Regions from separate parts of the Homo sapiens genome. Here region 2 is linked to region 1. Evidence: fine-mapped expression QTL. A gene starts in region 1. The other region holds a variant in brackets. All regions are shown on one strand. Distances are between the middles of the regions. Region 1 holds the start of VAV3-AS1 (VAV3 antisense RNA 1). Region 2 overlaps VAV3-AS1 (VAV3 antisense RNA 1).

Evidence for each region.
Region 2: its variant is fine-mapped to the expression of VAV3-AS1 in spleen (GTEx, PIP 0.97).

Annotation. Positions count from the first base shown.
Region 1 is chr1:107,959,750-107,975,882 of GRCh38, forward strand. It overlaps VAV3-AS1 (VAV3 antisense RNA 1), which reads left to right and starts at 4,694. Exons shown (of 3, transcript NR_046653.1): 1 at 4,694-4,755. VAV3 (vav guanine nucleotide exchange factor 3) reads right to left here and starts at 5,431. Exons shown (of 27, transcript NM_006113.5): 1 at 4,917-5,431. The coding sequence starts at 5,120. RefSeq lists enhancers at 4,442-4,571, 5,918-6,212, 6,148-6,217.
Region 2 is chr1:107,988,195-108,004,365 of GRCh38, forward strand. VAV3-AS1 (VAV3 antisense RNA 1) reads left to right here. Exons shown (of 3, transcript NR_046653.1): 2 at 5,311-5,441; 3 at 5,988-6,413. Among named protein-coding and RNA genes, the nearest start is that of VAV3, 31 kb to the left of the region's middle. The variant C/T (reference allele first, on the strand shown) is at 7,810.

The DNA.
Region 1 (16,133 bases):
TATACCTACATCTCCAACTCCTCCAACTTGCTCGGCGTACCCATCTAGATGTCTACTAGGCACTTCAATCATAACTAGCTCCAGATATTCCTTCCCCTCTCCCCACATACACCCCAACACCATACTTCCTCTAGTCCTCTCCATTTCAGTAAATGGGAACTTCATCATCCAGTTTCTCAGGGCAAAAATTCTGGAGACATACTTGACTCCTCTCTTCTCATATCCCTAATCTAGTCCATCAATAAACCCCTGCTGGCTCCATCTTCAGAATATATTCAGAGCCTATTCTTCCCACCATCTGCCCTGCTATTGCTTTGGTAAAAGCCGCCATCATCTCTTGCCTGAATGATGTATTAGCCTGGCCACTTCTATCCTTGCTGCTCTCCAGTCTGTTCTCAATGCAGTAGCCAAAGTAACTGTAGGAAAGGTAAATCAGGGCTGGGCGTGGCAGCTCATGCCTGTAATCCTAACACTTTGGGAGGCCAAGGCGGGTGGACTGCCTGAGCTCAGGAGTTGGAGACCACTCTAGGCAACATGGTGAAACCCCCTCTACTAAAATACAAAAAAGTAGCCGGGAGTAGTGGCACGTGCCTGTAGTCCCAGCTACTCTGGAGGCTCAGGAACGAGAAACTCTTGAGCCTGGGAGGCGGAGGTTGCAGTGAGCTGAGATCAGGCCACTGCACGCCAACTTGGGCTACACAGTAAGACTCCGTCTCAAAAAAAAAAAGAAAAGAAAAGAAAGGTAAATCAGGCCATGTCACTCCTCTCCTCATCCCTCTGTTGACCTCTCATTTCACTCAAAGTGAAATCCAAAGTCCTTAAAGTGGCCCACAAGTCCTAAAAATCGAGCTTCCATTTTCTCTCTGACTTCACGTTTCCCACTCTTTCCCACACTCACTCTCCTCCAACCACACTGACCCTGCTGTTCCTCCAGTATGCCTGCCACTTAATGACCTCAGGAGCTTTGCACTTGGTATTCCCTCCACCAGGAATATTCTTTTTTCCAAACATTGACATTCCTGTGTTCCTTCACTCGCTTCAGGTCCCACCTAATTGTCACTCCCTTGGAGAGGACTTTCTTGACTACCTTCTATAAAATTGTATTACATTTCTCTCTAGTTCCTAACTCAGCTTCAAATGGGTTCATAGCACATTATAGATAAATATATAAATAATTATATACAATAAATTGTATGTAAAAATATAAATATATAAATAAATTATACAGTCATTTATTTATGGTTCAACTCTACTAAAATCCAAACCCCTTTAGGGCAGGGACTTTGTTGAGTTTGTCCAAGACAGTGTCTAAAACAGCGCCTGGAACATAGTAGGACCAAGTAAATATTCATTGAAGGAATCCTTGAAGTCTGAATTATTCATTTAAACAATTCAAAGTTTACATACACTGTCCATAGTGGCCACTAAACTCATTGACTGTATTACCCCTACTATAAAGCATAGTATAAAGCAAAATTTTAAGTTTCAAACTAAGACTAAGGTACTCTCATTCATGATAGATCTAGGGGTGGTTATAGGCATTCATGAAGATCTTCTTAACCACTAAAAGTGACATCAAGCCAATAACTCATGCCCTTCCACAGGCACACCCCCAGCCCCAACCCCAGCATGTGCCGCCCACCCAGTACAGCTATCACCAGTAGGCTCTTCTCTTCCAGAATCATTCACATGCTTTGTGTCCTGGCTAGAATACTGTTTCAGATGAAAAATAAATCTCAAATATAGACACTAAAATCTAACATATACAGACACCAAATTTCTTAGATATTCACTGGCCAACTGCATTTTATTTAACTGTATTATATAATAAGAGGAACATGTTAAATGTATAACTAAATATGATTAATGTTTACCTCTTTAACCTATCATAAATAAAAACAAACACTAAATCAGCATGAAAAAATATACTTATTTTTGAACTGAAGATCATCCTCTTACCAAGATGGCAAGATCAAAAACAAACTGATGTCAACAGCCAGAAAGAACAATAAGTAAGAAAACTGGGATCCCATCCATGCTTTTATTTTGAAAGATAATCAACTAACTTATTAAGATTCCAAGATTCAAACCTATAATTGAGCAGTCATTATTTGCAGTTATTTATTTTTTTAAATGCAAACAAGGCAGAAGGCTAACAGAGAATAGAAAGGCATCCCACTCACTGGAATAAACACTCATTTTAAAAGGCTGGTCATTTTATAGCCTCTTTCAGGAAAGCTAAACAGGCTACAAACAAAACATCAATAAATTAAAATTTCTTTTGTCAACATCTGCTCTTTACAGTCTCAATATGTCACAAAAGTCAGAAGTGACAGCTTCCAGTTATTTCTCAGGTTAGGAGATCATGTGCTATAAAAAATAGTCTATTTCAAATTAATATCTTCAACAGAATCTAAGTAGACAGAACGACTCTCAGACATACCAAAACGCCACAAGTACTAGTAATGACATCTCTAACTCCAGGGGAATACATTCTGCTGGGACATGACAGGGTTGTACCAGGTTAATAGTGTATTCACTACAGCTAGAACCTTTCCCAAGAAAGAGATGAGTAGTTAGCGGCAAAATGTCTAGGGTTATCAGCCCAAAGGAACCGGTAGGCCTCTACAATTGTTTTAAAATTTCTATTGGAACCTATTACTCTTAATATAACAATAGCAGAAAAAATGTTTTTCATAATTTTGCTAATAGTAAACATTTATTAAGTACATGTGCTAGGCACTATAAGCATGTTAAATACGTCAAGTTGTTTCATAAAATCATTTCATAAGTCTCATTAAAGGATTTAATGACAACCTGCATGATACAAACTCATCGGCCTAGCATCCACTTGTTCAGCAGCCTTGCCTCTCTGCAATGAGGCCAAGAACCATGAGGAAAGCAAAAACAGACATCACCAGGCTCAGGTACTAGCCTTCTAGGATTCACATTTGAGGGAAGCACCCTCTCATAGGACATTACAGGAGAAACTGTACTTAATTTGGAACCAGAAACCTCAAGGTTGAACAGACTTAAGAACTCAAAAGTGCAACGGCACAAAGAAGGTCATTAGCTGTCCTACTTACCTTATTATAACCCAGTGATTTACCATCTGATAGCATAGTGTAATAATTCCTTTAGGGCAAGTATCCTGGTGTGCTCATTTTGCTACCCCCACTAGGGAACAGAACTCTTAGAGCATTGTATGTGCTCAATTTTCATTAATGATGCTTATAATGACAATCTTTGGTCATCAGAAAGATTAAATTACATCTAACATAAGAGGAGAAGAGTGAAACACATTCAAAACGATTCTCATCCATTGTTAGCATTCAAATAAAGGCTTCGAGGTTTAAAAAGGTCTTCAGCTGTCCAGAAAACGTGATTATTGAGAGCAACTGCTGAGAGTTCCAGGAAACAAGTTCCAGGAAATGTGCACAGTACTGTACTCCCTACTGGTGGGCCAAGGCATCCTGACCCACGCTGCCTCCTGAGGCTACAGGCAAAGTGGAAAATGGGGATGTGTGAGAGTAGCTAACTGCAGCTCCCACCATAATAGAAAAGTCTGCCAAACCCCTCAAAGGAATTTCCAGAGTTGAGACAACTCTGAAGGGGTACCGAGAGGTAGCAATCACCATGCATGTTTATGGGGGTATAAAATAATTTACCTCACTTTTAAATACGTATGGCTCTCCCCACTTCCATGCCTGTTCTTTCTTAGGGACTGCCCACCAGCAGGTTGAAGGCAAACAGGCAAGGAATGCAGAATCTGAAGTGCAGGGGACCCTGATGAAACACTGACACCAAGAATCACAGATGACTGTGTGTGCTCTAACTTTAAATACATACTTATTAAATCATATAAAGTCCGTTCCTTCTTAAAAGGCGCTGCTCTGGTTGCTAAGTAGCTGAGGCTCTGCGTCATAGAGGATTAGTGCTGAAATGTGTCAGGGAGAGGGCTCTGTCCTCTCCCTTTTAAGTTGAAAGCAGTTTGGTTTTTTGTTTTGTTTTAACATTCTGAAAGAGAAAGAGGCTCTGAACCGAGTTTAACATCCTTCTGTACAAAAATTTTCCGACAGGACAAATAAACTACTCTTCCACTGAACTGTGACTTTTGAGCTGACTCTAGGGTGCACCCAACCTTCCAGAGGTGTCTGGCTTAACCCTCAAAGAGGCAGCTCCAGCCCCAGGAGCCGACCGGCACCACAGCACCTGAGCAGGGCACTGCAGGAAGGAAAGCGGAATCTCTAGTGAAACTTCTCATTTCCTGTCGCTGCTGAGAGAGGCTGGACTCGCTCCTTCTCACATGGCTTAGGAAGAGCTGTAAACGGGAGCTTGCCGGCTGGCCACCAGCTCAGGGGCCCTGGGGGCGGCCTCCGGGTTCTGCTCCCTGTTCTTCCCTTTGACCAATGTCACTCCTGGACAGATAACGGGACCAAACGCCCTTCACTTCCTCGAGTCCTCATGTATGTCATGGTTCCTCTTTTAGGAAAACATGAGTACAAGACGCAAAGCAAAAGAAGAGACTAAAGGCAAATTACCCCATCACCTCGTTTCGTCCCTCCCCTTCGTTATTATAGAAGAGCTTGATCAAATTCCCTTTGTCGCGCCACACACACGCAGAGTAGGTGAAGGGCACCCTAAGACAACTTATTTCTTTCCCGCCTCACAGAAAGCCTTTACGAAATCCTCACACCATCTCCGGACGCAAAGCTTTCGCATTCAGCTTGAGGAGCTAAACCATTTCAAGCCAAGGTAGGAAACGCCAAAGTGGTGCCGAAGTGGTCCCAAAGCAGAAGGCTGGGAAGCAGGGCAAGCTCAGCGCACCTAGACGTTTGCATTTACACAAAGAAATTAGCCGCATGATTAATGGGAGCTGCCGGCTGGAGGCGGGGCGCCCGTGCCGGCCTCCTCACCTGGGACATCTGCGGCCTCAGGTTGATCTCCTTCAGGTTGATGGAGTGCGCCCGGAGGTTGTTAAGCAGCTGGCAGAGCAGGACTCCATCGCGGAGGGTCTGCGCAAGGTCGAACACCTGAGCCGAGTCCCAGGTCACCCGGTGGTTGGTGGGCAGCACCTTGCAATGGATGAGCCACTGCGCGCACTGCTTCCACGGCTCCATGCCCGACGGCTCCGGGACGCGGCTGGGCCGGGGCGGGCGGCAAGGATGCGGCCGCCGCCGCCGCCGCCGCGGTTCCTCCGCGCCCCGCCGACGCCAACAGCCGCCGGCCCTTTCCCCGCGCGGGATCGAGGGAGCAGGAGCCGCGGCTGACGGGTCGCGGGCGCCGCGCTAGGCTCGGCTCCGGTCCCGGCCCGGGTGCGCCGCGACCCGGCCGCCGCTGCAGCGAGTCCCGCGCGCTCTCCGTGCGCCCCGGCCGGCTCGGCGGCGGCTGCCGCGCACAGGCTTCCGACTCCAGCGCCCGGCCCGCCACTGAGCATGCCCAGCACGCCGGCCGGTCTCGCTGCGGTCCGCAAGTCCCCAGACGCGCGGGTGGGAGCGCGCCGGCGGCCGGGGCTGGGGTCTGTGGCCGAGGGCGGGGCGCGGGGGAGGGGCCGGCGGAGGGGGGCGGCGGCCAGAAAGGGGATCCCGCGCCCCCGCCTGCAGCCTTGCGGGGCTCACGCAGCCCCCGGCGTCCTGGGGTCTTCTCTCGGGGCGGCTTCCCGGCTTTGCGGGGAGTGTGGCTGAATACTGTAATACGATGGGGTCCCCCAGGACCCCCTAAACAACAAATGCTCAAAGGAGCGACGGATTAATTGGGGCACCCAGACTCCCCAGAGCAATGAAAAAAGTGCCTAGAGCATCAGTAGAGCACGGCGCTGAAAGTTTTAGAGATCGTCGCCCCCTCGCCCCTTGCAGCTCTATCCCCTCCATTCTCTATAGCTGATTCCTCAGCCTATTCCTCCTAGTTGCCCCTAGTGGTGTTTTGGCACCCTCAAAGTGAGTGAGAGTGCGTGTGTGGAGACGCCTGCGGAAACCGCCCCGATCCCTGAGCCTATTTCCTCGCGAGGTGATTTTCACTTGGAGCTGGTTTGCCCCTGCACTGTCAGGCTCGGAACTGTTTGCCGTTGCTGTTCTGGCCCTTTTGCTGACCCCACAAAAACCTGCTTGAGAAAGGCCTGTGCCACGGTGCTAGACTGCGCATGCGTCGGCGACTGGCGGCCGGGTTTGAGAGCAAAGCGCGTTAGCCCTGGGCAGCTCCTGCCGGGCTGTTCTGGGATCCTTAGTGAAAGTTGGAACTTGACCCCAGAACTTTTGCGCAGTGCACAAGCAGTGCATTCGTGTTTCTTAAGTAAATCTTTTGGAGACTCTAAACCCTACCCCTTTTACTCCCACTGCACACTGCCCCTCAAAACCACAATTAATGTTTAAATTATTTGTGGCAAGATATTGCCACAGTGAATTATTGCTGTTCGATAGGAATGTGGTCCTTCGTCACCCTTTTGAGATGCATTCACTTAAAATTAGAAAATAGGCCGGGCGCGGTGGCTCACGCCTGTAATCCCAGCACTTTGGGAGGCCGAGGCGGGCGGATCACGAGGTCAGGAGATCGAGACCATCCTGGCTAACACGGTGAAAACCCGTCTCTACTAAAAATACAAAAAATTGGCCGGGCGTGGTGGCACGCACCTGTAGTCCCAGCTGCTCGGGAGGCTGAGGTAGGAGAATCGCTTGAACCCATGAGGCGGAGGTTGCGGTGAGCTGAGATCCAGCCACTGCACTCCAGCCTGGACGACAGAGCCAGACTCTGTCTCAAAAAACAAACAAACAAACAAACAAAAAGATGGGAGTTTGGATAATTTAATTGTATTATATTTCTGTAGCCCAAATTTTTTATTACGAACCATGCTTTATAAGCAGGCCAAAATATTATTTTTAAAAGAATGATCTGTTCAGGATAGTGATTGCGTCCTTTTTCGTTTGGCTGTGACAAGGATAGCACACTGTTTACACTCAGCGCTGAACAATAAATCAGCCTGAGGATTTCCTTTCCTCACACGCATCCTTCCCTAGCAATTTCCTCTTGTGTTCAATGCGGATTCCATCAATAGCACGACATTTTCTAGGCCATAATTTTGGCAAATAAATCATACTAATCTCTACATACCTTTAGAAGCAAAATCCAACACATTTGAATCACCATTTAACACAGTCTTTCATAAAGAGAAATTAAAAAGAAATTTCATTAAACGGGTCAAAATTTAAACTAAAACTATGAATTTTTTTCAGGTAGCATCAGATCACCTTTGGATGTTGGAGAATATTTCCAAAATCCACATTATATACACTATCCCAGGACGCAAATCTGGATTTAGAGCCCGAGCTGTACTGCTTTCTAGCAACATGACCTTGGATAAATTCTCTACAGTTCAGTTTCCATAGATACGAAATAAGAAATTTTTTTTTTTTTTTGTGGGGGGTGGACGGAGTCTCGCTCTGTCGCTCAGGCTGGAGTGCAGTGGCGCGATCTCAGCTCACTGCAAGCTCCACTTCCCGGGTTCACGCCATTCTCCTACCTCAGCCTCCCAAGTAGCTAGGACTACAGGCGCCGGCCGCCACGCCCGGCTAATTTTTTTTGTATTTTTAGTACAGACAGGGTTTCACCGTGTTAGCCAGAATGGTCTAGATCTTCTGACCTCGTGATCCGCCCGCCTCGGCCTCCCAAAATGCTAGGATTACAGGCGTTAGCCGCCGTGCCTGGCCATAAGAAGTAATTTCTAACTAATAGGGTTGTTGTCAGGATCAAATGGTACAATGTCTTGCTATTCAAAATGCAGCCTGTGGACAGCAGCATCACCCTTGAACTTGTCAGCACTGTAGACGTTTGGCCTCTACTCTCATACTGAATGAACCAGAACCTGAATTTTAAGATCTCCATATCCCATGTATTTCCATCAAAAGCCAAGAAGCACTGATACAATGCATAGAATGTGTGGTGCCTGATAATTAGAGCTCAATAAATATTACCCAATAGTAGCCACTTTTCATTAACAAGTGGCAACAACGACCAAATATTCTATTTCACTTCTCTGTATATAATATATGACTTCAAAACATAATGCTTCTCAAATATAGTAAACCACAGAGTTGATAGAAAGGCAACAGGAAAATATATGGAAGGCCTAGAAGGGAAGGAGTTTAGTGGAGACACGGGATTCTTCACGTAAACAAGGAGCTAAGTGCCAATAGGTGACTCGTGAAAGACATTTAAGTGTCAGAAATTGGTGCAATAAAAATGCAATGGGCTTCTCACCTGAGTTATCCTTACTAAAGGAAAAAATTACAGTCTTTTCCCTTTACAATTTTTTTTTTTTTTTTTTTGAGACAGAGTCTCACTCTGTCAGCCAGGCTGGAGTGCAGCAGATCTCGACTCACTTCAACATCCGCCTCCCGGGTTCAAGCTATTCTCCGGCCTCAGCCTCCTGAGTAGCTGGGACTACAGGCACAAACCACCACACCTGGTTAATTTTTGTGGGGCTTTTTGGGAACCAGCCCTTGTCCCAACAAACCACTGACCTCGGCCTCCAGGCCTGCCCTGGCTGGTCATCAGAGCAGTAAGTGAGAGCAGGAGGCAGAGGCTGGGGAGGACAAGGGAGAGGGAGTGGGGTCCAGTGCAGGGAACAGGGCCCTGTCACCCAGGCTGGAGTGCAGTGGCACGATCTCCGCTCACTGCAACCTCCACCTGCTGGGTTCAAGCGATTCTCCTGCCTCAGCCTCCCGAGTAGCTGGGACTACAGGCATGCACCATCACACCCGGCTAATTTTTGTATTTTTAGTAGAGATGGGGGTTTCACCATGTTGGCCAGGCTGGTCTCGAACTCCTGAACTCAAGTGATCCGCCCACCTTGGTCTCTGAAAGTGCAGGGATTACAGGTGTGAGCTATCGCACTGACCTCCCTTTGCAACCTTAAAGGAAATGTTCCACCTAGTGAAGGCAAGTTGGGAAATAGGGACCAACTCATCAGTGGCAACTCCTTGCTAATCCTGGTACCTAGTGTTCTTGCGGTGTGCAAGAAGTTCTTTCTTGCATATCTGACGTGTGACTTCAGGACCCCTCCTATGGTCCTACTGCCCTTGAGTCCTTCATAGCCCCTGTAGTACATCCACACTCTACCATTTGCTGAATGCCCACTATGTGTCAAGCACTCTTCTGGGCACTTTACATGCACTGTCTGCAAGTGAGAAGATGCTCTCCCACCCATTTTAATGAAGAAGCTAGAGATCAACAGAGTTAAGCATCTTGCTCTTTATTAGGGAACTCAATAAAAGGATGAGCTTGTGTCTCCACATCTGCGCCCCTTCTGTTCAGAGCTGTGGCTCAGCATTAAAATAATTGCTGTATCAAGCTTAATTACTGGTTTAAACATCGTTCTCCCTGCTAGACTGAAACACCTTGAAGGCAAGGGTGGTAACTCATTCATCTTCAAATTCCCAGAACCAACCTTGGTGCCTGTCACATGACAAACAATAAATATTAGTTTGGTGAGTAAATAAATGAACAAGCTATGTTAACCCTCTTGCTCTCCCTCCATCCCTCTCTGCCTTTCTATCCTGTCTTTCTGGTGGTGAAAAGATCAGGAAGGATTTGCCAGCATTACTTGTAACAGGCATAAGAGTCACATGAAAAAAGATCTGCTTTTTTCTTTTTTTTTTTTTTTTTTTTTTTTTGAGCCAGAGTCTTACTCTTGTCACCTAGGCTGGAGTGCAATGGTGCGATCTTGGCTCACTGCAACCTCCGCCTCCCGGGTTCAAGCGATTCTCCTGCCTCGGCCTCCCGAATAGCTGGGATTACAGGCGCCCACCATCATACCTGGCTAATTTTTGTACTTTTAGTAGAGACAGGGTTTCTCTATGTTGGCCAGGCTGGTCTCAAACTCCTGACCTCAGGTGATCCGCCCACAAGAGTCTACCAAAATGCTGGGATGACAGGCGTGAGCCACCGCGCCTGGCCTGCTTTTTTTGTGTGTGTCTCGCTAGTCTTTCCGTGCCCTCCAAGATGAGCAGGCTGCCCTCTGTTTCTCTTTTGTATCACAGTGTTGTTTGGATCTTGCTTCAGCCCTACACTGTATGAAAACAGGAAATGGGATAAGTGGCATCCTGAACTGCAGGAAAGACAAGGATGACAGATGATGGATATCACATACTAGGTCCCTTGCCATGTTCAAAATTATATCCTACATCGTAGGACATTCTACATCAGGCCAAATGTACCAAAAAACTGAAGTAAAGGATCTGAAAGCCACATTAATTCATTGCCTGCTCCATCTGTATTGTCTCTCCACTCCTTACTGACTTTTTTTCTTATTATTCTTCCAACTCTTAATGTTTTTGTTTGTTTGTTTGTTTGAGATGGGGTCTCACTCTGTTGCCCAGGCTGGAGTGCAGTGGCACAATCTCACCTCACTGCAACCTCCACCTCCCGGGTTCAAGTGATTTCTCCTGCCTCAGCTTCCCCAGTAGCCGGGATTATGGGCACACTCCTGGTTAATTTTTGTATTTTTAGTAGAGACAGGGTTTTACCATATTGGCCAGGCTGGTCTTGAACTCCTGACCTCAGGTGATCCACCCGCCCTGGCCTCCCAAAGTGCTGGGATTACAGGCGTGAGCCACTGCGCCCGGCCTTTGTCTTTATTCCTCATTGTATTTCTTTTTTTATGTTATAAGAGAAGTAAATCATGGATGGTACATAACCTATTGAAGATAAATCAGTTTCTGAAAGAATTGAAGATGCAGAAATACAAATATTGTAAACAGCAAACTGAAATCCAGACTGTTTGCTGGATTAATTTCCTTCAACTACAATCAAATGTAGTTTGGTTTCACATACACATTAGGGATGTGGGCTTTACATTTCTGGTAATTTGATACTGTCTTTAAAGTAAATACCAGAAAAACACTGGGGAGATAGAATGAGGGTAGAGTAAGATTTCTATAATAACTGTTCCTTTAATAAATGTGCCCAAATCAGTGTGAATTTAAAGATTTTGGAATTAGGTACAAATGAGCAGGGTCTTGTTAGGATCACAGGATTTCTTTTCTCTTCTGACATGTTCAAGTCCTTGATTATAATAATAAAGGTAACAAAAACAATGACAATAACCCATACTCTAAATGGTGCTTACCATCTAACAGAAGAAATTTACTTGAGGTAATTTATGACACATAAAGCTTCCAATTCAGGAGGCCAGGGATGGTGGATCACCTGAAGTCAGGAGTTCAAGACCAGCCTGACCAACATGGCGAAAACCCACCTCTACTAAAGATACAAAAAATTAGCCAGGCGTGGTGGCAGGCGCCTGTAGTCCCAGCTACTCGGGAGGCTGAGGCAGGAGAATCACTTGAACCCAGGAGGCAGAGGTTGCAGTGAGCCGAGATTGTGCCATAGCACTCCAGCCTGGGCAACAAGAGCAAAACTCCATCAAAAAAAAAAGCTTCCAAAGAAGCAGCTTTAAAAGGAGGATTAGAACATGACTGTAAGTCTATGTGTTACAAGGGATGGATTAATAAAAGACCAATTAACTAACCAATGTCCAAATAAATGAAATAATGAAATAAATGGAAATACAAGTGTTCTTCCCACTCTGTGAGTATATACCCCACCAACACACACAGAAAATGAGGCTCCAAAGATTTACCTCACTGAGTTAATTGCACTTCAGCTGGGTCTTTTCAAAGTCTGGTTCACATTAAACATTCTGCAGCTCTCAAGCCATGATTAGACATTAGTCCATTTTCAGAACATTAGTGGTGATACACATATATGTTATGTTTTAAAGATAACTAAGGAGGTTAAATTTACAGGGAAAAGCTAAATAGCTCTGTGTATTCCTGTCAACAACTAAGGACCTTAATCTAATTTGTAGAATATTTAAATCCATTTGCATGTTGGTATGAAGAAATTGCCAGGGAGAAAGTTCTTTATACAGAGATTGTGAATTTTAAAATCCAATGCAAAGAAACTTTTGTGGGAAGTCCTTGATGTCCCTTTTTCCATATAATCCTGTGTATATCACAATCGTTTTACTAAGTTCTTTGCAGAATAATTATCTCTTTAAGTGTCTGAGACCCCAACTACCACCAACCTCCTTTCACCCCAACCCTGACTATCTTTGAGGTCCTTGGAAACAGAGATTGTACCTTATTCATGTCATTACTCCAATGCCTGGCACTTAGTAGAGGATAGATGGATAACTGGATGGATGAAGAGGTGGGTGGATGAATAAATTAGGTGAAGAGGGATGTAAACCATGTCATTATAGTAGTGATGAGAGAGGAGAAAATTTCACTTACCATTTTGGCATGTCACTCAGATTTATTCCTGCCACCAACAATGTCCTTGGAAAAATAAAGTGATACAGAAGGACAGATTGGGTTTACCCATGTAGAGAATGCAGGAGTACTAGAAAGCACCCTGCCTCCATCCACATTCAAAACCAAAAAAAAAAAGTCCTTGATTTATGTTTAACAATTAAAATTCATTATAGAACAATTAGAAACTCTCCCTGGAAAATGCAATATATTTAAATTCATACCTCATGCCTGAGATCAGATAATAACAGCAGCAACAGCTATTTGTTGATGATATTATGAGCACTGACAACTAGCTATTGAGCTACCTACTTCATATGTATGGTTTTATTTGATTCTCATAACCTCTCTGAGGTGTTACTATTATTGACCTCATTTTGTAGATGAGGAAACCGACTCTAAGCAAGCTCAACTATCTTTCCTAAATTCAAATAGCCAATAAGTAGCAAAGCTAGCATTGGACCTGGAACATCCTGATGCCAAGATTCACACATTTAACCATGATGTCATTCTGCCTCTCTGGAGATTTAAGACAGAGGGATCCCTAAGAGCAGATGCCAACAAGATGGCTTTATACACAGCCAACTTTAAATGTTCCACACCCTGCAGAAAGTCATTAACAAAACATAATTTTACATTTTATTTACATGAGTGAAACTTCCCCCCATTCCTATTCAAATAGCAAGAAAAGAATCAAGATTTGTTTGGTAAAGCAATTTTAATTTATTTTTAATTCTTAAAATGTTCCAGTTTTAAATGTTTCTAAATTTCTTTAAGCATTCCATTTAATCTTTTCTAATGTAACCGTTTTGTTTTATTTTGCTGTGTTTTGTTTCATTTTGTTTCAGACTGACATAAGGTTGTGAAATGCTGTGCTTTAGAAAACCTGTGGGTATCTTTTTTGATCATCAGAATCATAACAGTGTAGAAGTGATTCAAAAAAGCTTGACCAGCTTTTCTGGGAAAGGACAGGACAAAGCTAAAAAGCACTAAAATGGAAACCTAATGTGCCATATTAATCTCACACACATGCACACGTAGACACTTACACAATTATATATTTTTGCAGACTATGCTCCATTTTGCAATCTTGGCATTAGGTTACCTGTAAAATCATAAACTGGTTTCTATTGCACACACAAATGGAAAAAGGAAGACTCACTGGCCACACCAAGAGTGCTCATCTGGTCAGGATGAAAACACAGTAGCTTTTTCTGCTTCATTGTTTGTTTTGACACTGGCTACAACGTTTCATCTGTTCTTTCAGAAATTTCCTAGATTTAGGGAATAACTCATATGTTCGGCTAGCTTTGTTTCTCCTTTTGCTGACATTTCTCAGGGGCTAATTTCTTAGGCTATTTAAATCAGAATATATCATTGGGGTGTAAGAAAGAAAGAGATAAGTCTAAAGAGGATATCTCTGAGAGAACAATAATCATTCAGATTATTTTAAAGAGAGAATAGGATGAAATTGGTAGGCCTGAAGAAAATAGGAAAATTTACATATATATATGTAAATGTCCAATCTGCCCTAACCTATAAAATCTGATTTACCTACCTCATTTAATAAATATTAATTTTGCACTTTCTAAAGAACAAAAACACTCTTCTAAATTTTATGTGGGGTTATAGGGTGAGAGTAAAACAGTGTCCCTAAACTAAATCCCTGTGAAAATGTATTTAACACTTAAAGATGAGAGTAGGAAAGATGGCACGAAGAAGGCACTCTATATCTTTCTGTGTGGAAGTGTTTAGTGTAAACTTCTTATGGCACTTGAGACAATGAAACTTATGAACCAGCACTGAGCTGGAGGGATTGCTGGACAGGCAGAACACAGAAGGTCCACTGTAGTCTTAGAAGGGCATCTAGCTAAATGAAAACTGTCATCTTCTAGAATCCTAATATGTCCATATTCTTGTTCCTTTCATTCTGTCTACTTAATCACTCTAAGTGCCAGGAACCAGGAATAATTTCTGGGGTGGCTCCAGGCACAAAAATGTTAACAGTGATGCAATTTGATAAATCAAAACGAGTTGAAGGCATTAGTTGAAAACTCTAAAATGTTCTAAGGAACTCAAACAACTCAATAACAATAAAACAAATAACAGATTTCAAACGAGCCAAGGATCTACATAGGCATTTCTCCAAAGAGAACATATAAATGACCAACAGGGTATGAAAGAAATGCTCAATACACTAATTGCCAAGGAAATGGAATTAAAACCACCTGTTAGAATGGCTATTATAAAAAAGACAAAAGATAAGTGTTGGTGAGGATGTGGTAAAAAGGGAACCCTGGTAGATTGTTGGTGGGTATATAAATTAGCACAGCCGTTATGGAAAATGGTGTGGAGGTTCCTCAAAAATTTAAAAATAGAACTACCATATGATCCAGTATTCCCACTTCTGGAAATGATACCATTATGTCAAGAGATACCTGCACTTCCATGTTCATTGCAGCATTATTCACAATAGCCAAGATATAAAATCAATCTAGTTCAACAATGGATGAATGGATTTTAAAATGTACTATAATAATAATGGAATACTATTCAGCCTTTAAAAAGAAGGAAATCCTATCATTTGCAACAACATGGATAAACCTGGAGGCCATTATGCTAAGTGAAAGAGGTTGGGCATAGAAAGACAAATACTGCCTGATCTCATTGCATGTGGAATCTAAAAATGTTGAATTCACAGGGACAGAGTAGAATGGTTGTTGCCAGGGGCTGAGGCAGGGTGGGAGCAGGAATGGGGAGATGTTGGCCAAAGGGTACAAAGTGACAGTGTAACAGAATGAATAAGTTTTGGAGATCTATGGTATAGTATGGTGATTATAGTTAATAATAATGTATTGCATACTTGAAAATTGCTATAAGAGTAGATCCTAAATGTTCTCACCACACACAAAAAATATGTAAGATGATGGATGTATTAATTCACTTGACTTAATCAGAAGTAATCTCCCAAGTGGTTCAGCTGTCTCACAATACAATGGGAGAGGGACTGCCAGAAGCCACTGGGAAAGACGGATGATCAATACTCACAGTGCAAGGGTTGTAGCCTCGCAGTCTATCTTGATCACACTTATGAGGAATTGAGTTACAGCTGTCAAAGTGAATGAGAGTTTGCTGTTGGCCAGCTATCAATTCCTTTCATTTTGATCTCTTATGTGGAAGTGTCTGGGAAGATGCAGCCACTGGCTGAGATTTCTTCTTAAGGCGGCTCCCTGGGATCTGGATGTGTCCCCAACACCTCCATTGGAACCACAGTTTACTTTTTAGTAAAAGTGAGAAGGAGACAGACATTGCTATCACAGGGCCTGTGGGTCTCTGATGCTGAACTGAGGGTAATTAGAAAGGTCTTTTCTTTGCTACTACATCCAGTTTGAACATTTTATGGTAGATATGTACCTAATAATTGCTTTTCTAATGCTCATTACATATTTCATATTCAGACATTAAAAGCTTAGTTCTTTACTAATGTCTTGTGAAGTATATATTGAATGTGGCAATAGTTTCATTACAGATTAAAAACAGTTATAATTTCTAAATAGCCAGAAACTAGTATCAGTAAACACCCATATATATTATTTAAAATAATTTAATTATTTTTGAAGTCAGCTTTAACTACCACTTTTCGCTTCTCTGCATTTAAGGATACAGGCAATATTTTACTGTTTGGAAAAACCAATCCAAGATATGAGTTTTAAGATACTGTCTGTGTCTGATCTATCTTTTCCTTCAGATTCTCTACCCAAAATTTCTTCACAATATTCCTATACTCTTCAGATAAACTAGAAAAAAATCTAAACCTTGAATTCTGCT
Region 2 (16,171 bases), 28 kb after region 1:
TCATGCCTGTTAGGTGAAACCACCCTACAATGAGGTGTAGGGTGACATCTCACTAATGAGGACCCTTAGTAGAATTTAAAATTTATGCTCAATTCCACTTTCTTTTTCTTTTTGTTTTTGAGACAGGGTCTCACTCTGTCACCTGGGCTGGAGTGCAGTGGTGCAATCATGGCTTACTGTAGCCTCTAACTCCTGGGCTCAAGTGATCTTCCCACTGCAGCCTCCCAAGTAGCTGGGATACCGGCACATACCACCAGTCCCAGCTAATTTTTTGTGTTTTATATAGAGATGGGGTTCTGCCATGTTGCCCAGGCTGGTCTTGAACTCCTGGACTCAAGCACTCCACCTGCCTTGGCCTCTCAAAGTGGTGGGATTACAGGTGTGAGCCACGTATAATAACACCCGGCCTAAATTTCACTTTCTAATGAAATGTGTTAGAACAAGATTCCATAGCTACCTCAGAGGAGACAACACATACAGCACATAAGACCTTGCTGTACTTGCCTTCTCAGATGAAGAAAGCTGGAAAAAAAAGCTGTTAAAGAGACCTTTTTATAATTAGCTTGGGAAAACAGGGGCCTTCATAAAAACAGAGATGGAGAGACCCATAGCCAAGATCCTTGGAGACTTCAGGAAGGGCAGTTGTCTAATAGTTTCTTAGCACAAGGCCATACCTGCCCCCACGCAAAAGTACTAATGCAAATGAATGTGCATGGACACTTAAGAGAGGTATAGAGGCTCAGCCTTAAGTATGTCAGTCTAAACGTTTTAATACTATCTAAACTAACAGGATATACAAAAATCCTCTGCATGTGGCCCTGAAGTGCACAGATTCTTAAAAGTCCTTCTTCTTCTAGACTCTTCACAGAACACAGATGCCACCGTACAGTTCCACAACTCCATTAAAAAGTGGGCAAAGGACATGAACAGACACCTTTCAAAAGAAGACATACATGCGATCAATAAACATATGAAAAAAGCTCAACATCACCAATCATTAAAAAATGCAGATCAAAACTACAATGAGATACTATCTCACACTAGTCAGAATGGCTACTGTTAAAAAATCAAACAATATCATGTGCTGGTGAGGTTGTGGAATAAAAGAAACGCTTATACACTGTTGGTGGAAGTGTAAATTAGTCCAACCATTGTGGAAAACAGTGTGGGAATTCCTCAAAGAGCTAAAAACAGAAATGCCATTCAACCCAGCAATCTCATTACTGGGTATAAACCCAAAGGAATACAAATTGTTCTATCATAAAGACACATGCACATGTATGTTCACTGCAGCACTATTCACAATAGCAAAGATATGGAATAAACTTAAATGCCCATCGATGATACACTGGATAAAAAAACATGGTACATATACACCATGGAGTACTATGCAGCCGTAAAAAAAAACGAGATCATGTCCATCGCAGGAACATGGATGAAGCTGGAGGCCATTATCGTTAGTAAACTAACACAGAAACAGGAAACGAAATACCACATGTTCTCACTTATAAATGGGAGCCAAATGATGAGAACACATGAAAACGTACAGGGGAAAAACAGACACTGGGGCCTATCAAAGGGTAGACAGTGGGAGAAGGGAGAGGATCAGGAAAAATAACTAATGGGTACTAGGCTTGGAACCTGGATAATGAAATATAATCCATACAGCAAACCCCCGTGACATGAGTTTACCTATATAACAAACCTGCACATGTAAACCTGAACTTAAAATAAAAGTTAAAAATAAAAATAAATAAATACATAAAAACAAATGTCTGGCCTCATTAAAATTTGAGTTAAAACTATGATTCATGAGAAACTTTTGTTGTTAGAGAAAATTATTTTCATGACCCAAGCTGAACTCTAGGCTATGAAGAAACTAAATCTAAGAGAAGGCTTCACGGTGACGTCTAGAGAGGCTTTAGGAGGTCCTCAAGGAACCTCCGCTTTCCTTTGGTGGGTGTTTGTTGTTCCCTGTGTAGCACTCACTTTCCCTTCTTCTAATGGCTCCTTTAGGCCATGTCCTATCCCCGTGGCATGCAGTCTTGGTGGGATAGTCAGCAAAAGTTTCCTATCAAGGACACACGGTTCAAGCTAGACCTATCTGTTTCCTAAAAATTAAATATTGGGTAGAATGACAGAAGAATAGGAAATTGTTGGGGTTGATTCTGTTTCTCACTCTTTCTCTCTCTTCCTCCCTCCTTCCCTCCATCTGTCTCCTTTTCATTGTGTTAAGTTAGCCAGGAATAGTTTCCACTGATTGCAACAAAAAAATCCCAAATGATATATTGCAGTTCATGCATCTCAATATCTTGTGAATCTAGTTTAACCGTCAGGAGGGCAGCCACAAGGGTAAGACAGATGAGGGGAACCTGGACAGAGATACCGAGTTTATAGCTTTCTAGAAAGCTCACTAGAATTTCCAAGTTGCTTCAAAATGGCATATGAGGAAGAGGAAAGGGACAGTGGAAGACTGTATAGAATGGAAAATCCTGCAAACATGTGCCAATGGAGGCTCTCTTGGGCACTAATTCAGGTTATGAGAGGCATTATGAGCAAGGCACAGCAGTCAGAGGGCAGTACCATGGGCCAGCTGAGTCACCGCCATGACTCAGGTACCGGCAGAACAATAAGATGGAGTCCATACACTAAGGTGCCATTCAAGAAATATTTAGGGCAATATCAGATGGATGAGGCAGAGCACCCTGGAGCAACCGGCCGCAGCCACAAGGAAAGACATGGAAGTATTGGCCGCAGCAAGTGCCAGAATTGAAGGCTACTTGCTCAGCCATTGCAGGAGGCTGTCATTTCTGACCTGGTGTCCTCACTGGCTGTTTCCCCAGAGAGAATGGGAGAGTTCTAAGGGAAATCCGGGTGTCTCAGAGGCTCCTCTGTATCACTGCTGTTGCCCTCTGTCAACCTAAATAACCAACAGAGAAAGCCTCTCTAAAAGAAAGTGGTGCTTATTCAGGAAAAGGGCATTGCAGTATGGGAGCCACAGTAAACAATGTGTGTATTCAGGGAGATAAGAGGTACTTAAAGAAAAATGAAGATGATTACTTTGACAACTTTCACACTTCCAATAGCTGGGAAGAGACCCTAATCTCAGGACTCTTCAGGGTCTTCTACAACCTCCATATTCAGACCTACAAACAGCAGGATCTTCCAGGACCTCCCATTCTGGAGTAATTGTTTATAAAGGGAAAGTCATACAGCACAGTGGACCTGGAGTTTGAATTCCTTTCCCCTTTGCCACAGCTGCGAAGCCCAGAGATGCCCAGTAGCCATTTCACAGGGTTGCTGTGAGGATAAATGAGATGTTGCACATAACGCATTTAGCACAGAGTCCCACGCACATGAAGTGCTCAACAAAGTTAGAGAGAGTGCCAGCAAAGATGCTCACTGACGCAACCAGGGACTGCTCCAATTCCTTCATTGTCACTATGAAACTCCTGTACACATTCTGTGGAAGAAAAAAGCCTGCTGCTATGCTTGCACCCCATGACCATTAAGTGGCCCTAGAAGACTTCTACTGCATGTGGAGGGGTCAGAAGGGCGGTGGCTGTTGCTTCAAGAAGGGGGAACGGGAGCATCTGGCAGTGACGTCCCTTAAAGCCAAGTGGCAGCTGATTCACACAAATGGTATTTGGATAGAGGTGGAAGGAGTAAGAGAGAAGCCTGCCCCTGCCTCCCAGAAGCTGGCTCCTCTCTCATCATTACAGCTGCCATCTTTCATCATCCAGGCCTCCCCCAGATGTGGCAGACAACTCACCCATAGAATCTCCTCCCACACCAGGAACATGTTGAGACTTTGTTGCCTGTTCCTGGCACTCTTAGGATCTGTGCTCTGGTCCCTTGCGTAAGTGGCAGAGAACAGCACCAGAAGAAAAGGGGTATGGGGAGATTGAAAATTGTTTTTGATGCAGCTGGAGAAAAAAATACATTCGACATTTAGGTAGATATAGTATTATGGCAAAATAAAATACTCATGTTTAGAGGAGATCCATGTTCACAGAGAAAAAAATCACAAGTTGCAACAGTTAGCAACACAAGGCTCAATCCCTCCACTTGTACAGCTGCTTCCAGCGAGTCATGGCATTGTTGGCTCCAGCATCAGGGGTACAATGATGGACACAATGAAAATTAACTCATTTCATTTAAAGTCAGAATATAACTTCAGCAAAAAAATTAAACTTCCTTTGGGTATTTGCACTACATTTTTAAAATATAGAAATTTCCAAATATTTTTTTCTATGTTCACGTCCAATTGCTTTTTCAACATCAACAAAATTCCACTTGGAAATTGTTCTGCTGTCACACTGCCCCTTCAGAAATGGTCCACAGGTTAGTGGTGCTGAATTCTCAGCTCACTCTTAAAAGTTCCCTGGAGGAACTCTAGCACTCATTTCCAGTGGCTTCATATATGAATCTAATAACAATATTTATATTTGGTATGTGGATAAGAAAATATTGTTTACCTCGAGTCCCAGACCTTGTGCTAAGCACTCTACAGGTGTCGTCTAATTTTGCAGGTAACAAACATGGGAGAAGTTCACATCAGAGAGCTGGTAAGTAGGGAAGCTGGGATTCAAACCTGACCCACTTCTTTGCAAATCTTAGGTGACCTTGATAGAGTTAGACGGGCATGTTTCCTCATCATGAAGACTCCAGTTTTTATAACTGTCTCTATGTCCACAGTGTCTGGCATATATTATTAGAAGCCCCCCCCAAAAGTTTATTCTTAGTCATTGGTTTTACTTCTTTAAGTGGGACACACCTGCATTTACCTCCTCCTACCGTATTCCAACTCCATAACCAAAGTAAAGCACTCCACATCTGTAGCTCTCTCTCTAGAATTCTGGGAGTAAGGTTGAAATCTAAAATAGGAGTTCTACAAAAACAAAATGAACACTTTTTTTTTTTTTTTTTTTTTTTTTTTTTTTTTTTTTTGAGACGGAGTCTCGCTCTGTCACCCAGGCTGGAGTGCAGTGGCGGGATCTCGGCTCACTGCAAGCTCCGCCTCCCGGGTTCACGCCATTCTCCTGCCTCAGCCTCCCAAGTAGCTGGGACTACAGGCGCCCGCCACTACGCCCGGCTAATTTTTTGTATTTTTAGTAGAGACGGGGTTTCACCGTTTTAGCCGGGATGGTCTCGATCTCCTGACCTCGTGATCCGCCCGCCTCGGCCTCCCAAAGTGCTGGGATTACAGGCGTGAGCCACCGCGCCCGGCCAAAATGAACACTTTTTGTTGGTTACTGAGAGAACTAACAAAGCTTGTTTTGAATTGACATTGCTGTTTGATTGTCACAGGTTTCTTCACAGATTAGGATAAAGGATGAAGAGAAGTAAACTGAATTACTAAGGATGCAACATTAATGGAGAGAGCCAAGTGATGTAAATCGTGGCTGGCCATGAGTGGATCTTGAGTGCCAGTTATCTAGGTATCACTCCATCCAGTTTCCCCCTCTCATTCCGGTTGCCAACACAGGCATCAGAGACTTTTTCCAACTCATCCCTGCTCACACCTCATAGCAATCCCCTGAGAATACATATATTGCTATCCCCATTTTACTGATGAGATAACTGGCTTAGAGGAGCCAAGCAACTTGCCCAAGATCACAGAACCACAGAGTGGCAGAGCTGGATTACAACCAGCTCCCTCTAAGCCCTTAGACTGGTAACTAATATTCTGTTTTCTAATAAAACCCTAGCCTTTTGTAAAAGATGCACTTTAGGAACATTCCTAAGATAGGTAATGACCTGCAGAGATTGCATTTCTGATCCAAATCAAACCTAGGCTGAAGGAGACGAAGCAAGGGCCAAACACAATGATTCATTGCCTACCTTGTGAAAGACAACAGTAATTCTAGGTCAAAGTCTAATGAACGGATGTCCGCATAGCAATTAGCAGTGCCGGCATCCTGACTGGCAGTCTTGGCAGAGCAGCTGTGATCGTCATAGAAACTGTACTCCTCTCTCCCCCACAGAGAAATTCCACGTGGCTGTTCCAGGATGGATTAGGCACCAATGACTCTCTTTCACCCTCGAGCTGGAATCCTGCCCCTTTAACACCTTTCCAGAGAGAGGCAACCCATGGAGGGTCACAGCAAGATGGGATGGTTGTGCCTGGTAGTAAAAATATGTATCACTCTTCATTTCATCCAGCTTTGAAGCTTCTGCTAGCAGCTCACACATGACCCCAAGGGCAGCTCCTCAAGTCTGCTAAAGAAAAGTTAAGTAGAATTAATTTTGTTCAATATCTCCCATTTTGTTAGATTCATCATTTTCAGTCAAGAATGACAATATTAATGGAACCAAAAGAATATATACTATTAACATTTCGTCTTAATTCTACAAATGTCTAAAAGTCTCTGTAATTCCCTTAAAAATAAAAAAAATGCAATATTAATTTAGGGAGCACTCTAGTTGAGCAATCAGTTCTATAGAAAATCAACGTTATATTACTCCTATTATTTACAGTATATGGCATTACATCGTAAAACTACCTTATCTTTTACTTGGGAAGACAAGGGGTGGAGGATTTGAAGAACCAAAACTTACAGAATTCCTAGTATGAACTGAGCATATTACTTCCTCTGCATCTACAAGCTTCTTATAATTATCTCCATCTTGTATGAAAGAAAACAACCTTCAGAGAAATTAGATAACCAGTTCTCTGTCTCACAGACAGTGTGAAGCTGGTATTCAAAGCCCCGGCTGTCTGACTCCAAAATCTCTGTTCTTTCTACTCCAAATTTCACATGTATTTATTTTACTTCACATGGATCTGTATCTGGGATTACTCTGTAATACATAAATTATAGAAAAAAAATTTGGCTGGGCACAGTGGCACACGCCTGTAATCCTAGCACTTTGGGAGGCTGAGGTGTGTGGATTGCCTAAGCTCAGGTGTTCGAGACCAGCCGGGGCAACATGGTGAGACCCCATATCTACTAAAAATACAAAAAAAAAAAATTAGCTGGGTGTGGTAGTGCATGCCTGTAATCCCAACTAATTGGGAGGCTGACGCAGGAGAATCACTTGAACCCAGGAGACAAAGGTTACAGTGAGCTGAGATCGAGCCACTGTACTCCAGCCTGGGCAACAGAATGAGACTGGCTCCAAGCCACGCCCCCTGCCCCAGAGCACCAAATTTAAACTAGCTGGAACCCAACTAATTAAAATCTTGAATTAAATGATTCTTCCTCTACCATATCTCCATTCTCTGCCACCATCACATTCTCAGCCTGTAGGGATAACAAGTGGGGACAAAACAACTAGGACCTATGATTGTTTTTAATCTTTAAAATGTGCCATGAGGTAAAATAATTAGCCCAACTTCCTAAATCAATTCCATTACACTGTGGTAACAAGGATTTCTGATATAAACCCAAAGCATTGTGAGATTTTAAATTATTGAAGAAAGATTCAATTATGTTCAGGATATCCTACTTAGGCAGGGAAATGTACTCATTTCCCTAAGTTTTTAGGTAATAAACTGAAAAAAAGTTGATTTTTTTTTTGTGTGTGTGTGAGGGGAAGGGACTATCTAGAAAACTCCATCACATAGTTCCTTGACTGCGTAGGTTAGTCTATATAATTATTTAAAAAGAAAACTTCATTTCCTTCCCAACCCCAAAACTACCATGTAGATAAAAACAAGTGCCAAGGGCAATGAGGCAAAATGCTTGTATTTGAATCCCAGTTCCATCACTAGTCAGCCTTGGGACCAATGGCAAGACCTTACCTCTTTGGCATCAGATGCTGCAGCAATGAAATAATGAGTTAGAATAAGATAATCTCCCAGTC[C/T]TTGCCTGGGGTGTGCATTTATGAATTCATTCATTCAACAAATATAAATATTTTCATAGACACAATGTTTCAATGTTTTATGATACCATCTTGACATTCATCAGCATTACATATTTATTAGGCAGAGTGATTACAAAGAAAGACTCAGTCATTTCCAAGGAGCTCACAAGGGGAAATCTGACATTTACACAACAGTCAAAGGTAGCCAAAGGAAACAACAATGGTCAGTATGAGCAAGGCACTACAGGATTCCCCAAGAATCATTTAATTTTTTCATTATTTCAGTAGTTGTGCTAAGACAAAAGTGATGATCTATGGAACACTCCTTAGCCTCCACACTGGACATGAGATTGTATTTAGTATTTGCTCTGCAGTCCTCCCTTGTTGTGAAAAGCACATATATCCAGAATAGTGACTAAACATAACCATAGGCAAATGGCTACATGCACATAGAGAGTCTACACAGGAAATGTGAACATATATGTACTGAACATTCATACATCAATATCCATCATATTTGCCTTCAATTCAGTGCTATAGCAAATGTTTACTGTGTGTTTGGTGCTGAGTGGGCTATAGAGGTAGAAAAGAAAGGATCTTGCCCCTCTAGGAGCACACCACTTATTCCATTTACTAAGAAAGACGGAAATATAACCAATTCCAACAGGGGCAATGATAGTGGTTCTAACAGTAATACTTCCAGAGTGTAGGAAAGGAATACTTAATGTTGTCTAAAGAATCTGGGAATTCTCAGAAAAGATAGGACTTTATCTGAGCTCTAAAGAAAGAGTAGCTCTTTGATGGGGCAATGTGTGTGAAAATGTGTATAGAGAAGCAAGAAGGCCTAACCTTTTAAGTAGTAACAATATGTCCAGACCCAGTGATAGGATCCATGTGGGCCAGAATCAGTAAATCCATATGGGTGCAGCATTAGGTCTTTGAGGAATGTAGTGGAGATCAAGGTTAGAAAGAGACACCAAAGCCAAGCGCAGGGGCTCACGCCTGTAATCCCAGCACTTTGGGAGGCCGAGGCAGGCGGATCACCTGATGTCAGGAGTTTGAGATCAGCCTGACCAACATGGAGAAACCCCATCTCTACTAAAAATACAAAATTAGCCAGGCGTGGTGGCACATGCCTCTAATCCCAGATACTCAGGAGGCAGAGGCAGGAAGATCGCTTGAACCCGGGAGGTGGGGGTTGTGGTGAGGGTGAGCTGAGACTGCACCATTGCACTCCAGCCTGGGCAACAAGAGCGAAATTCCATCTCAAAAAAAAAAAAAAGAAAGAAAGAAAAGAAGGAGACACCAAAGCCACAGAACTTCACTCTGATATTGAGTAACAATTAAGAGCATGAAATCTGGAGCTAGACTTCCTGAGTGTGAATCCTGGCTCCATGTGAACTTAGGCAAGTTACTTAGCCTCTTCTGTTACATTAAAAAGAGTTGAAGTGTGGGAATGCTTTAAACAGTGCCTAGTATTTAATAAAGTCCATATATAAGTTCGGTATTCAATATACAATGGGGAAGCAATTAAGGTAATGGAATTAGCGTGTGACCTAACTGGTCTACTTATATAGTTTTCCTTACTGTGCTATATTAAGGAGGCTGTATTTAGGAGCTGAAAAAGGAGTTTGTGGTTGTCATTGTGTTGCAAAGTTAAGAGGAATATATATTTCATCTATGTAATTAGTAATGATAGGTTCTCAGTCTTGGGAGCTCTCAGGTTGTCCAGATCCCAAAGACAGACCATGGACGATGGTTCACATTCTCAGAAACTCCTGGGATTTGGAAGGCACATTTCCTTTCATTAAAATACTCATGGTAGGTACATGCTTTCATATGAAATGATCATTCCATTTCTTATTTACTCTTTCATGATTTTTATTAGATTTTCTTAGAAAATACTAGTGTATTAGAAAATAAAAATTAGGGCTCATAGGAAAGAACATTGGATGTCTAGCCAGATTGGAACACATAATTCTTTTAAGAGATGCCAGGGACATTTCCCTCTTAGGAGAACTGGGAGCAACAGGCTTAAAGGGATTCTACACACTGCATTAATTATTAGAACATGACTCTTTGTTCCTCTATTCTATTACTCACTGATTACAAACCTTAAGGAGAAAGGTCATTATTACAAACAGCAAGAAAACAGAGGTTTAAGTTAAAATTGTCTTGGAAGGCTGTAAAACGGTGATTTTCCTTCCTTTGAGGAATAGTAAATGCAAGTATTATAATTCATAAGGGCTACTCCTTTATACAATTCAAAATCAAAATCTCATTACTCTCATCATCGCATTTTCAATAAGAATTAATTTCTGAATTTTATTAATTTTAACTATGGACTCTGCTCAATATTCTCAGGTTTGGAGAAAAAGTAGGGCAGCATTTCTATTCCATGCACTGAAAAAGACCTGGAAACGAAGCGCAAAAGCCATCACACTCCAGGAAATGTAGCAAGGCAGTGTGACCTAGTTGTAGACCCAGACAACTGGTATTCTTTTCTAGTTTTCTGCTCTCTGGGCCACATCATAGTCCTAACTTCTCTGAGCTTGGTTTTCTCTCTCTGTTGAAGTGTACATTAATGCAGGGAATTTACTATTGTGGTAATATTCTTGTAGTCACCAATGGTAATTCTCTCTCTCTGTCTCTCTTCCTCGCTCTTTCTCTCTCTCTCCTTCTCTCTTTCTCTCTTATTTTGCTTTATAAAGACTCAAACTAGAGGGTGATAGCTACCCTAAAAGTCCAGAATTCACCACTACACAATATATTCATGTAATGGAATGGCACTTGTACCTCTTAAATTTATTTTTAAGGCTCAAACTAGGAAGAAATTAGATTTTATGTATACATTTATGAATATGTATGTATACTGTACATGATGAAATTATATAATATACAGTCATGTTGTAGATGTTTAAAAATCATGCTTCCAGCCAGGCACGGTGGCTCACGCCTGTAATCCCAGCACTTTGGGAGGCCGAGGCGGGTGGATCATGAGGTGAAGACATAGAGACCATCCTGGCCAACATGGTGAAATCCTGTCTCTACTAAAAATACAAAAATTAGCTGGGCATGGTGGTGGGCACCTGTAGTCCCAGGTACTCGGGAGGCTGAGGTAGGAGAATCGCTTGAACCCAGAAGGCAAAGGTTGCAGTGAGCCAAGATTACACCACTGCACTCCAGCCTGGCAACAGAGCAAGACTCCGTTTCAAGACTAAAAAAACAAAAAACAAACAAACAAAAAATCAATATATTATAATTCATCATTGTTATTATTTTAATGCTTAAATGTTTCCCAAATTTAACCCAAGGGAGCCCAAGACAGTTCCTTATCCATTGGTCATTGCTTCATGATTTTCTGAGCATGTCTTGCTTTCCAGCACAATAGTGTATTCCAGAAGCATATTTATATACTCCTCACCTGGAATTGACCACTTCCCCCAAGGAATTCTGACTCCCTTTAGTAGGCAATGGTCTTTAGAAATCAACACCTGAAAGTCACAACTGGAATTTGAACCCAGACTGTGAGACTGCAGAGCATGCTCTCAACATCGTACTATATGACTCTAATTAAGTATAATATCCTCTAATAAGTGAGGTACACCAAAGATGCTCTAGGAATACAGAGGAGGATGTGGGTGGAAAAGAAGGGAGGATTTCACTGGGAAGGCTTGCCTTGCAAATCTACCTTTACTGTTATTTCCATGCTGATACCAGAGTGATTTCATTTAACCACCTGGACACTATGGAAACAGTCTTTCCTACTTGGGACCAAATCTATCCCAAATTATGGTTTTCCCATATTTCACCCTAGTCACAAAAATGTCTGAAAAACTCCTCTTTCCTGGTATTCAAAAAGAGCTAAGAGAAGCCACTCCTCTCCTTCATTCTACTCCTTTGACTTCCTTTACACATTCACACATTCTGTTTCGGATTTCATTGTTTCCTCAAAGCATACAAAGTCTCTTTCAAAAGGAATTCTCTTTCTTCAGAGTCATGGTTTGGGAGCTTCTAACTCCTACCCTTCTCATAATAGACCTCTCCAGACCTCATTATCTTAGCATAAAAGTTAGTACAGAATGTCAGCATGTTTAAAACCCGACTTCTTTCCTTTCTGCAAATAAATAAATAAACAAACCCAAGTTTAGATTTCAACTATCTTGCCTCAGCCATGTGTGAGCACCTCTCAAATCCACATTTGTTTTAAGAAGGCAATTTTTTTTTACCCTAAGTTTAAATTTGCATTGTGAGGGAGTATAGGAGAAGATGGGCAGCTTGGAGTTAACACCAGGCCAGGTTTCCTTAAAGGGAGCAGCAAAAGCAAGCCAGCTGAGTGATCACCTGGGTTGCAGCGCCTGAAAATACAGAGCCTCGTGGTTTTGTGCAGTGCTAGATGGAGTCTCTTCCCTGGCATCCTTCACTTGTCACTACCGTGTGTTTTCTTTAATACTATTGCTACTGCAGTTGCCACTGCCGCTATCAGTAATGAAATTAATAATAATAATAACATCCTGACCTATTCTGCCATCGCAAATTTCAGTCCATTCTAGCCCGCAGAGGAGATGGCCAGCCTGTAACACTGCAGTTGAATATTAATTAAGTGATCTTTCAGTAGCACAAGGGAAGGAATCAAGGGCCTGTTTAAAACCATTCCCTTAGATCTATTGCAGATAGGAATCAATAAAGCATCCATGTTCAGGGTCACAAGTTGGCTTGGAAAACAAATCCACAACTGAGAACCCTATGGCCTCCCCTGGAGCACTCCAGGCCAGATCTCTCCCTGTCTGATGACAAACTCCAAGAGCCAGGGTAACCCATTACTCACTCCCAAGCTGTTGTGGGCTTTTTTTTTTTTTTTTTTTTTTTGCTGTTGCTTGACTATAAGCCAAACAAAATGAACGTTCATATGGTGAACTTGGCAGCTGTCCCACTCCAGACTGTGCTTTTCCACAAGCCAAAGGAGGCTTTGAAGCTGGCCTCCCCTCCACTTTGCCCCAAGCTGGGGAATTACCCTTGGAGGAGCAGAGATCAGCTGGCACTGAGCCATGCTGCCCTTTGGGTCAGGAGACATTCAAGAAAGGCCCGGCCTATGGGCCTCATAGCTGAGCAGAATGACTTGGCCTGTTCCCAGGGCTGCCAAAGGTGTCCTGTATCTTTTTGCTGAATTTCTAGGGATAAAAGCTTAGCATTTTATACTTACACCTTAACATAAGAATATCTGTCCTTTTGCCTGTATGTATTGAGATAGAAAGGTGTCCCACTGCAAGGCTTTAGAAATGTTTTGCAAACTCACACTCAGTTTGCCAATAATTCACAGTAAAATCTGAACTCACATAATCAAGATTGGATACAAAGAGCACTGGAATGAAGGGATGGATGAGTGAACAAATGAAATTAGACTATACCACGAAGGAATGGAGTACATGAATGAAGACCAGACATCAGGAATCTGGGTTTTGGTCCTGGCTCAGTCCCTTCCTGACTTCTCATTTAACCACTTGCAGGTCAACAGCCCCACCTAGAAAATAAAAGACTTGGAGAAATTATTTTATCTCTTCCAGATATAGATGATTTATTATATCACTTGTGTGCATATACAGATTAATAGTCAAGCATGAAAGCAGTCTATAATTTGTAGCCATCAGTAACAATCAAACAGCCTCCAAATAACCGGAAATCCAAAAGCAGCCAAAAATTGAATTATACCGCATGATTAACAAATTGTGAATATGAATTTTGACTCTGTCACAAGGTCAGGTTACTCAGCCTCTGTGGCATGGCTCACTGTAAATATTCTAGACACATGTGCTCTCAAACTAAAGTATTTTTAAAATATAACAAAATTTACCCTTAACAATTTAAATTGTTATATTTAAATTGTTGTTATTAAATTAAATTGTTGTATTAAATTAATTGTTATATATAAATTGTTATATTTAAAGTATAACAATTTACCCTATATATTAGGGTAAATATTATATTTACTCTTGGGATATTATACTAATGTCCCAAGATGGACACAGATAAGCTCTTCAAAATGGTTCCTATTTGAATACTCTAATTCTGGAGGAAACAAAGTGTTCGAATCATACCAAAGGTCTTCCAAGTAATGAACAAGTAAAGGAGCACTTCATAAAGTAAACTAGAATGCCACAATTAGTATGGATGCTTAAGATTACTCAAATGTGTGGTTTTTCTAACACTAATCTAATTTAGAAATGTATATTATAGTATTAGAAATGAATACTATAATTTAGAAATACTCACTACTTCTGACTATTCTTTTTCCTCTATTTTTATTTTGTAATTTTGAATTTTTTACTTTTCCTTTTAAGAGACAGGGTCTTGCTCTGTCACCCAAGCTGCTGTGCAGTGGCATGATTATAGCTCACTGTATCCTCAAACTCCTGGGCTCGAGCAATCCTCTTGCCTTGGTTCCCAAAATTCAGGGATTACAGATGTGAGCCACTGTGCTTGGCAATTTTAAAGTCTTAAAACAGTGTTATATTAATATAAATCATGGTAGGATTTGACATTTCAAAGAACTTGAGGATAAAAACATTTCTTAGGGGACCAAAAATGATCACTAATTTGTAAAATGGGCCTAGACTCACCCACATCTCCCAAGTGATGTTTCCTTCTTCAGAGCTGCTCTACATGTAATTAAGAGAACAGAAGGGCCGCCTGCATCAATCAAATGCACAACCTTCCCTAGCACACACAGTTCCAATGAAAATCCAAACAGCTATTGGGATGAACTGAGGAATGATGTTTATCAGGTCTTCAAGGTGAAAATACCACCAGCATTTATTACTGAGAGAAGAATCTTTTAGCAAACAATAGACCAATAAATTTTACCTCTCAAAAAAGTGTTTCACTTCATTCTTCCACTTTTGACTCCAAGTCATAAAAGACCCAGCGCAGAATAAAGTAGGTATGCTGAGAGGGTTTAGACATCCTCTCTCATGCCCAAGCAAGATCATATGCTTAAAAATGGTCCTTGGCAGAAGAATATATCTTTAATTTCTTTAACATATTAAAAATTAAGCCTGGGGCTGGGCGCTGGGGCTCGCACCTATAATCCCAGCACTTTCGGAGGACGAGGCGGGCAGATCACCCAAGGTCAGGAGATCAAGAACAGCCTGCCCAACATGGTGAAACCCCGTCTCCACTAAAAATATATAATTAGCTGGGCACGGTGGCATGAGCCTGTAATCCCAGCTACACGGGAGGCTGAGGCAGGAGAGTTGCCTGAACCCTGGAGGCGGAGGTTGCAGTGAGCCGAGATTGTGCCATTGCCCTCCAGCCTGGGCAAAAAGGGCAAAACTCCATCTCAAAACAAAAACAAACAAATGAAAAACCAAACCTGGAAGAATAAGATCATACAGTTTTCCCAGCTGTGTATGAGATTCTTCTCACCAAAACTTAGCCACAAAGCTGGAGTTAGAGCGAAAGAGGCCGTGAAGTAGATGAAAAAAAGAGAAGCCCTTCCTTTTTGGAGACTGGGCGATTGTGGTTTTAGAGAAAAATAATAAAACATATATTCTCTGATTCCATCTGTGTTAAAACTGCAAATCAGAGTTATATTTGAAAAAATGTAGGAGAGAAATCTCCTTTTGCTACATGCACTTTAAATTCTCAAGGAAGTATACTAGCTGTGTTCTCAGAAGAAAACAAATAGAATGCTAGATAATATTTACATCCCTTGCATACCAAACCAGAGGAAACAAACAGCCCTGTTCAGAAACTGGGCAGGTGAGGAAACAGTTTAAACCTGAAGGAACTCTATCACTGTGTTATGCTCCTGGAGAAGCAAGAGACCTCCTGAGATCATCAACTTTTAAAAGTAGTGTTTAATCTTCCAGGGATGAACCTTCTATTGCAACATACATAATAACAAAGTTTGTAAAACATATTGTGGCATTTAATCTATAGATGCTTATTATAGGAAATAGAAGTTATTCATTTAAACTGTAAATGTAAATACCAGCTTGTGTCAACTGACACACTACTATGTAAATTGTATAGATACTTCTGTAAGTCAGAGAGCTCCAGACTCCGTAGTCTGAACTTCCCTTTGCAGATTGAATAAGAAAAGCTAAGCAAGTGATGTTTACCACACAGTTTCATGTAGCCCAAATGATGAAGAGCCATTGTGAATATCACCTACTTTGACCCATAATGCTCCACTGTCCTAGAGATTATATTTTACCGTCTTGGTGACTCTATTGTTTTGCAGTTCGGGTTTGGATTTGATAAGTAAAATGGCAGCGTGAAAATGTTAGCCTCATGCTTAATAGGCTAGGCTATGAGGAAGAAAATGTTAAACAATAGCATTGGCATATTTTTTCCTATATAT